Linked DNA regions of Homo sapiens: region 1 is reported to be linked to region 2. Evidence: microRNA targets listed by miRTarBase, many of them from high-throughput screens and not tested one by one. Region 2 holds a microRNA gene; the other region holds the end of a gene's coding sequence.

The links. Region 2 holds the annotated microRNA hsa-miR-3664-3p (UCUCAGGAGUAAAGACAGAGUU, at 2,403-2,424, opposite strand). A microRNA usually pairs through its seed, bases 2 to 8, with sites in the 3' UTR of a target mRNA and lowers its output. Matches are read on the target gene's strand: a 7mer-m8 pairs with bases 2 to 8, a 7mer-A1 pairs with bases 2 to 7 and ends in A, and an 8mer does both.
Region 1: the mRNA of ZNF770 is a reported target of hsa-miR-3664-3p. Seed matches in the 3' UTR shown: 7mer-m8 at 1,282-1,288.

What each region holds. Positions count from the first base shown.
Region 1 is chr15:34,978,541-34,981,954 of GRCh38, reverse strand. It overlaps ZNF770 (zinc finger protein 770), which reads left to right. Exons shown (of 3, transcript NM_014106.4): 3 at 1-3,414. The coding sequence ends at 596. Among named protein-coding and RNA genes, the nearest start is that of ZNF770, 8.0 kb to the left of the region's middle.
Region 2 is chr11:70,869,887-70,873,300 of GRCh38, forward strand. It overlaps MIR3664 (microRNA 3664), which reads right to left and starts at 2,482; the gene lies at 2,384-2,482. All of the region lies in intron 11 of SHANK2 (SH3 and multiple ankyrin repeat domains 2), which reads right to left.

The DNA of each region.
Region 1 (3,414 bases), not on the chromosome of region 2:
ATTTAATTCATACTGGACAGAGGCCCTTTGGCTGTAATATTTGTGGGAAATCTTTTAGACAGTCAGCTCACTTAAAAAGACATGAACAGACTCATAATGAAAAGAGTCCTTATGCATCTCTTTGCCAAGTAGAATTTGGAAACTTCAACAATCTTTCTAATCATTCAGGTAATAATGTTAACTATAATGCTTCCCAACAATGTCAGGCTCCTGGTGTTCAAAAATACGAGGTCTCAGAGTCAGATCAAATGTCAGGAGTTAAGGCAGAGTCACAGGATTTTATTCCTGGTAGCACCGGGCAACCCTGTCTTCCTAATGTACTTTTGGAATCAGAGCAAAGCAATCCTTTTTGCAGTTATTCAGAGCATCAGGAGAAAAATGATGTCTTCCTGTACCGATGCAGTGTTTGTGCTAAAAGTTTCCGATCTCCATCTAAACTGGAAAGACACTACCTAATTCATGCAGGGCAGAAACCATTTGAATGCTCAGTTTGTGGCAAAACATTCAGACAGGCTCCTCACTGGAAGAGACATCAGCTTACTCACTTTAAAGAACGACCACAAGGGAAAGTGGTTGCCTTAGATTCGGTTATGTAAATTGTCGCAACCACTAACAATTGTGGTCTCTGGTGATCTTATTTTTAAAGCCTGTATTATTTAAAATGCATTTTTATTGAAAGGCCTGCATTAAACTGAATGGTTTCACAGGCATTTGCTTGTCCTGCATAGTAAGGAGGTAGAATACATAGAAAATTAATACAATGTTTTAGAAACAGCCAAGTTAATTTTAGAGGCAAGAACATGATTTGATGCTATAAAGTAGGCATTTTAATATTGTAAACATATACTTTGGCTGTATTGAAAAATATAAATCCATGATGGCTGTACAAATAATTTAGCCTCATTCATTTTTTAAAGGAATTATTCCTTAAGACATGCCATCTCTTTTTAGATATACTCAAAAGACTGAGAGGCAAAACTTGGCTTTTAGCTGCAGCACATAGCCCTGTTATATTTGATTTATTTTACATTTCATATGAAAGCATAATTTTGTCCACATGTGACTCAAATTGCATTGGTAATTTTTTTTTTTTTTTTGTAAGTTAAAAAAACTACAGAGACACTAAAGGTGAAAATGGATGAGACAATTATAGTATTATTTTCATTGGTCTTTTTTTTTGAGATGGAGTCTCACTCTTTCGCCAGGCTAGAGTGCAGTGGCGCCATCTAGGCTCACTGCAACCTCCGCATCCCAGATTCCAGCGATTCTCCTGCCTCAGCCTCCTGAGTAGCTGGGATTACAGGTGCCTGCCATCACGCCTGGCTAATTTTTGTATTTTTAGTAGAGACGGGGGTTCACCAAGTTGGCCAGGATGGTCTCGATCTCTTGACCTTGTGACTCACCCGCATCGGCCTCCCAAAGTGCTGGGATTACAGGCATGAGCCACCGCACCCGACGGTCTTTTCAAAGCTATTTATTTTTAGGACTATGTGGTAATTTCACCTTCAGGTGATAAGGATTTTTTTTTTCTCCCAGCTAGTGCTATCTTTCTCAAAATAATTTAAAAGTAGGCGAGAGGCTAGGATGTACCTATATTTACCATGTTTACTTACCAGGAATATTTTCTAAGTGCCATAGTCTTTTTCATAATACGTATGAGTTTTACCTTTTCAGAGGAATAATTTCAAGTCATTTATTTGCTCATTAATGATAGCAGTAGTCATAGACTTAAGACTATTCTAGAGATCTTCATCTCCATAAGACTTTTACATTTATTTTAGTAAACTTTTCTTTCTATGCCTCTTTAATGGAGTGGTTCTGTTATTTAAGCCTGTTCTAAGTTTGATCAAATGGCAATGACTAGGTCTAGTTTTAGTTTTTATTTTTGCAGGAGTCTATTGCTAAAGAATTTTATTTTGATGCTTGTTAAATTTTTATTTTAATTAATAAGGTAGTCATTCCTGTAGAGGGATAAGATGCTTGTAGAGTTGTGGGTATCATTCCAAATAGAACTGTTATGATTTGGGAAATATTCTTTACTACAAAGGACTTATTTCATAATTACAAATTTTCCTTCATATTTGCCTTTGTTTATAAAATCTTCAGGAATGACATTCTCTAGCAATAAAAGGAATGAACCGTTATGTTTCTAAGCTGAAAAGAGGAACAGGTGGGTAATTATCCTGCCATACTTAAATATAGTGGAAAATCCTCTATTGAGAATGTGGATAAATGAACAATTGTAAGTTTTGCATCATAAACTGAGAACTTTCTTTTGACAGGGGGGAGGCGGGAGGGATAGTAGGTGGGGGTGATCTGCTTGCTTCTTTTACCACAGGTGATTTTTAAGTAACTTGGGTTTAATTTACAGAGATGAAACATGACAGTCTGAGTAAAATACCCAGTGATGTAGAAGTGTGCCTGTTTATTATGTAGATACAGACATCCAGCAAAAACAGGAGAATCACATGCTTTAAAGAACACTTTCTCTTAGGTTTCCTTGAGATATGTTCCTCCAGTGCAAGCAAGATAATGGTTTACAGAATTTGCTTTACACAAAACTTGTCAAGAACTCATCTGTTAAAAGCAAGGAATAACTAGTTTATATTTTCCAATAATGTTCAAGGTTTTCTCCTTAATATGTTTGAAATTATTGATTTTGGCATTTTTCTAAGCAATTTATGTAATTTTATTTGAAGAAAATGTTTTGTATAATGTTTTTCCCAGCCTAAACAGGGAGAGTCCTAACAGTGTTGTGCTTGTATGATTCTGAGACTTTATTTGCGTAAGTGATACTACTATACTTTATTTTTGACCCATGCCTTTTTAAGCTGTTTCATATTGAAAGGTGGAATATTGTAAAAATTTTGTCAAAGATGTACTGTAGTGCTATTTGAAGTACCTGTAACAAAACAGTTGGCCCTCTGTATCCATGTACTCTGCATCTGTGGATTAAACCAATTGCAGATCAAAAATATTAGAAAAAATAAAAATAATACAAATAAAAATACAGTATAACAGTTATTTAAATAGCATTTACATTGCATTAGGTATTAGTCTAGGGATAAAGTATACAGGCGGATGTGCGTTGGTTATATACAAATATGTCATTTTATGTAAGGGACTTGAGTATACTTGGATTTTTGGTATCTGTGGGTTGGGGGGACGGTCCAGGAACCAATACCCCATGGATACCAAGGGACAACTGTACTTATTTACCTTTATTGTCATTGCAAGCTTCTTATGGAAACTTTATAGGAATGAAAATATACATGTTAAGAAGATTAAACATTAGATAGTAGATGGTTTGTTGCATGCTAGAACTGTTAGTATTGTTGAATCAATTACTTTGGTTTCATGAAAAAATAAACGATAAATATCTTTAAAGAGAACTAGAAGAATTTTTTGTTTGAG
Region 2 (3,414 bases):
ATGCCTCCCCTCTGCCTGAAGCTCCCCAGGCTCTGCCTTCTCACACACCCAGAAACCCTCACAAAAGTCCACAAGAGTGTCCCCCCAAATCCATGTCCACCCAGAACCTACGAATGGGGCCTTAACTGGAAATGGGTCATTGCCTCCTTGCAGATGTGATCAGTGAGGTTGCGACGAGGTAATACTGGATTAGGGAGGGTCCTAAATCCAATAATTAGTGTCCTTATAAAGAGAGTGTGGCCCAGGGCACTATGGAAGAGGTTTGAGGATGAGCACAGCAGCAGAATCTGAGTGCTGGAGGCTCACCCAGGCAGAGTGTGCTCCACTTCGTTCCAGGGGACTGAGAGAAATGAACCCGGGGTGAGACCCAGAGCCGTCCCCTCCTGCAGTCCATCTGGGCCAAAATGAGAGCCCAACCAGTGGGGAGGGAGGGGCAGATTCAGGAAATAGAAAAAGTGGAAGGGGCTGGTTCTGGACAGATGGGAAAAGGGCAGGTGAGCGCCAGGAAAGATCTAGGAAGGTTTTTGGGTTTTCAGTTCCTGGGCCATAACTGAGATGGGGTGCCCAGGAGGAAGGGCCAGCTGGCCAGGAAAGATGGGGTATGTTCACTGGAGCTCCTGTAACCACAGCCTGGGTGACTGAAACCACAGGGATGAATTGTCTCATGGTTCTGGAGGTTGGAAGTCTGAGGTCAAGGTGTTGGCAGTGGGGGGGTTCACACTGGGGACTGCAGGGAGACTCTGTTCCAGGCCTGTCTCTCCAGCTCCCAGTGGCCTGTAGGCAATCTTTGGCATTCCTTGACTGACAGAAGCATCACCCAGAGCTCTGCCTTCATCTTTGTGTGAGGTTTGCTCCGAGTGCATGGCTGTGGCCACATTTCATTCATTCATTCATTCATTTATTTATTTGAGATGGAGTCTTGCTGTGTCGCCCAGGCTGGAGTGCAGTGGCACGATCTCGGCTCACTGCAGCCTCCGCCCACACAGATTCAAGTGATTCTCCTGCCTCAGCCACCCAAGTAGCTGGGACTACAGGCACCCGCCACCACGCCCGGCTAATCTTTGTATTTTTAGTAGAGACGGGGTTTCACCATGTTGGCCAGGCTGGTCTCGAACTCCTGACTTCAGGTGATCCATCCGCCTCAGCCTCCCAAAGTGCTGGGATTATAAGCATGAGCCACTGCACCCGGTCCCATTTCCTCTTTTTATAAGAATATCAGTCCTACTGGATTAGGGCCCAATCTAATGACCTCATTTTCAGCTGATGACTTCTGTAAAGACCCTACCTCTAAACAAGGTCACACTCTGAGATCCTCAGGGTGATACTTCAACATATGCATTTGCAGGGACACACTTCAAAGGGGAGTCAGGGGTCTGGGCTCGCCTGGTGGCAGGCTCTGCAGGAGATGAGTCTGAGGGTCCAAGAGGAGGTCCAGGGAGCGCTCTGCAAGCCACCAGCCCCGAAGATCACTGGCACCATAGGAGCAGGGCAGGATGGGCGGGGGTGGGGAGCAGAGAGCAGAGCAAGGGCAACCACAGAACCTGGGGCCACACCACCTTCTGAGATGAGCCACATAGCCTGGCACTGAGCCTCCTTCACGTGCTGAGGCCACATCTGTGTGCCATGGAGCCTGTGAGCCCCTGGAGGGAGAGGCTGTGCCTGGGACCCTGCGGATTCCCCAACACATTTGCTGAACAAGCAGGGCAGGGAGAGAAAGGAAAGTGAGGTCGAGACAAATATTATAAATATGACCATATCCCTGATGGAGAAGAAAGTCAAGAAAGAGTTCATGTTGAAAGGCAACACGGGCCAGACACACCTGGTACTCAGGGGCCCTGCAGGGTTTTACAGCAAACTGTGGCCACATGGGGGCTGGGAGGGGACAGCCAGGAAAGAGGCACAGTCCCCATCTGAATTTGACTGAGAGACTCTTTGAAGCCGTCTGAGATTTCCATATACGATTTCTATTAATATTTAAGGCAAGACGCATCCCATCCTCCATAACAACACCGTCTTGAAAGAAGCCTTTGAACTACTTGAAAGGTAAACCCAGCATTATTCTTGGATTAAGAACTCTTGTTCATTCAACAAATACAGCCCCACGACGACATCCCTGAACACCAGAGCCAGAGGTGCCTTGGCATGTGCACGCTGCCTGCTTCTGCAGCAGTAGGATGATGCGTGTGTGGCCTGTTACGTCACACCGCCAGTGGGTCTGGGCAGTGTCCCATTGCCAATTGCGGGAGGAGTCCTTCAGGGCACGGATGAATAATCATGCTAAGTAGGATAAATAAAAACTATAAATAGCCTCAAATCAGTTCAGGTCAAGTACTACTGCCAACGAGCTACGGAGAAGGCATTCGCTTTTCAGATCTTTTTGCAGATCCACATTGAAGGTAGGGAACTCTGTCTTTACTCCTGAGAGCTCGTGTTGGAAGGTACTCATGAGTGAAGACAGAGTTCCCTACCTTCAAGTTTACAGAGGAGACGGGGTGCACAGTGGAAAGGAGGGGAAAAAAACCCCACACGCATGAAGAGGAAAGACAAGTAGGATGCAGGCTTGGAGGTGGAGGCTCGGCGGGACGGGGAGAAAAAAGGACAAGACCCTTCCCTAGAAGCGCTTGGTGGACACAGTGGGTGCAAACGACCAAGTGGCTGGATGGAGGGAAGAGAGACCCTCAGATGGAGGGAATAGGGGGCCCCCATACAGAGGGGCCCCCCACAGACCAGAGTCAGGGGCACACAGGTCCGTGAGCTACGTGGAATGAGAGATGGGTCCCTGGACCACATTACTTCCGGCTCCCTGGTGTATCTCCTCCACGTTCTGGCCACCTGCGGGTCCCTGTTTTCCTCCACACTGACCACTTGAAAACTGATGGGTGGCAATTTTCACCCCTCATTGTCCTAAGGGTCGTGGGGGCTGCTTTGCTTGGTGCTGGAGTCTGGGGCCACAGTGGAACATGGCATTGATTGCTAAGAGGAAGGGACCCCACGATGCCCTGTAGAGCCCAGCTCCTCGGGGCAGGAGGAGCACATATCCACTGTCTGCCCTCTCCCCACACTCATGACCTCCACCTCCCCCAGCCCCAAACATTACAAAAGCTAAAGACATCCTGGGCACCTGTGAGAAAGGAAGAGCGGAGGTAGTTCCCACGTCCATCCTGGTGCCTCTGCCTCCCGGGTGGCGACCCTCAGGAAGGTGAAACCTGCAGCTTGGGCCCTGCAGTTTATAGAATGATATGTTTGTGGTTCCCTAAAACAAAGAGCCGTTGCCACAGCAACCGTGGCATCCCAGCACTCAGAGGCTATTCTCAGACACTAAACAATGAGTTTTGCCTTTCAAATGCATTTGATACAATTTGCTTGGAAGGCATTAACATCCTCTGACAAAACCCATGAGGAAGAGGAGGGCAG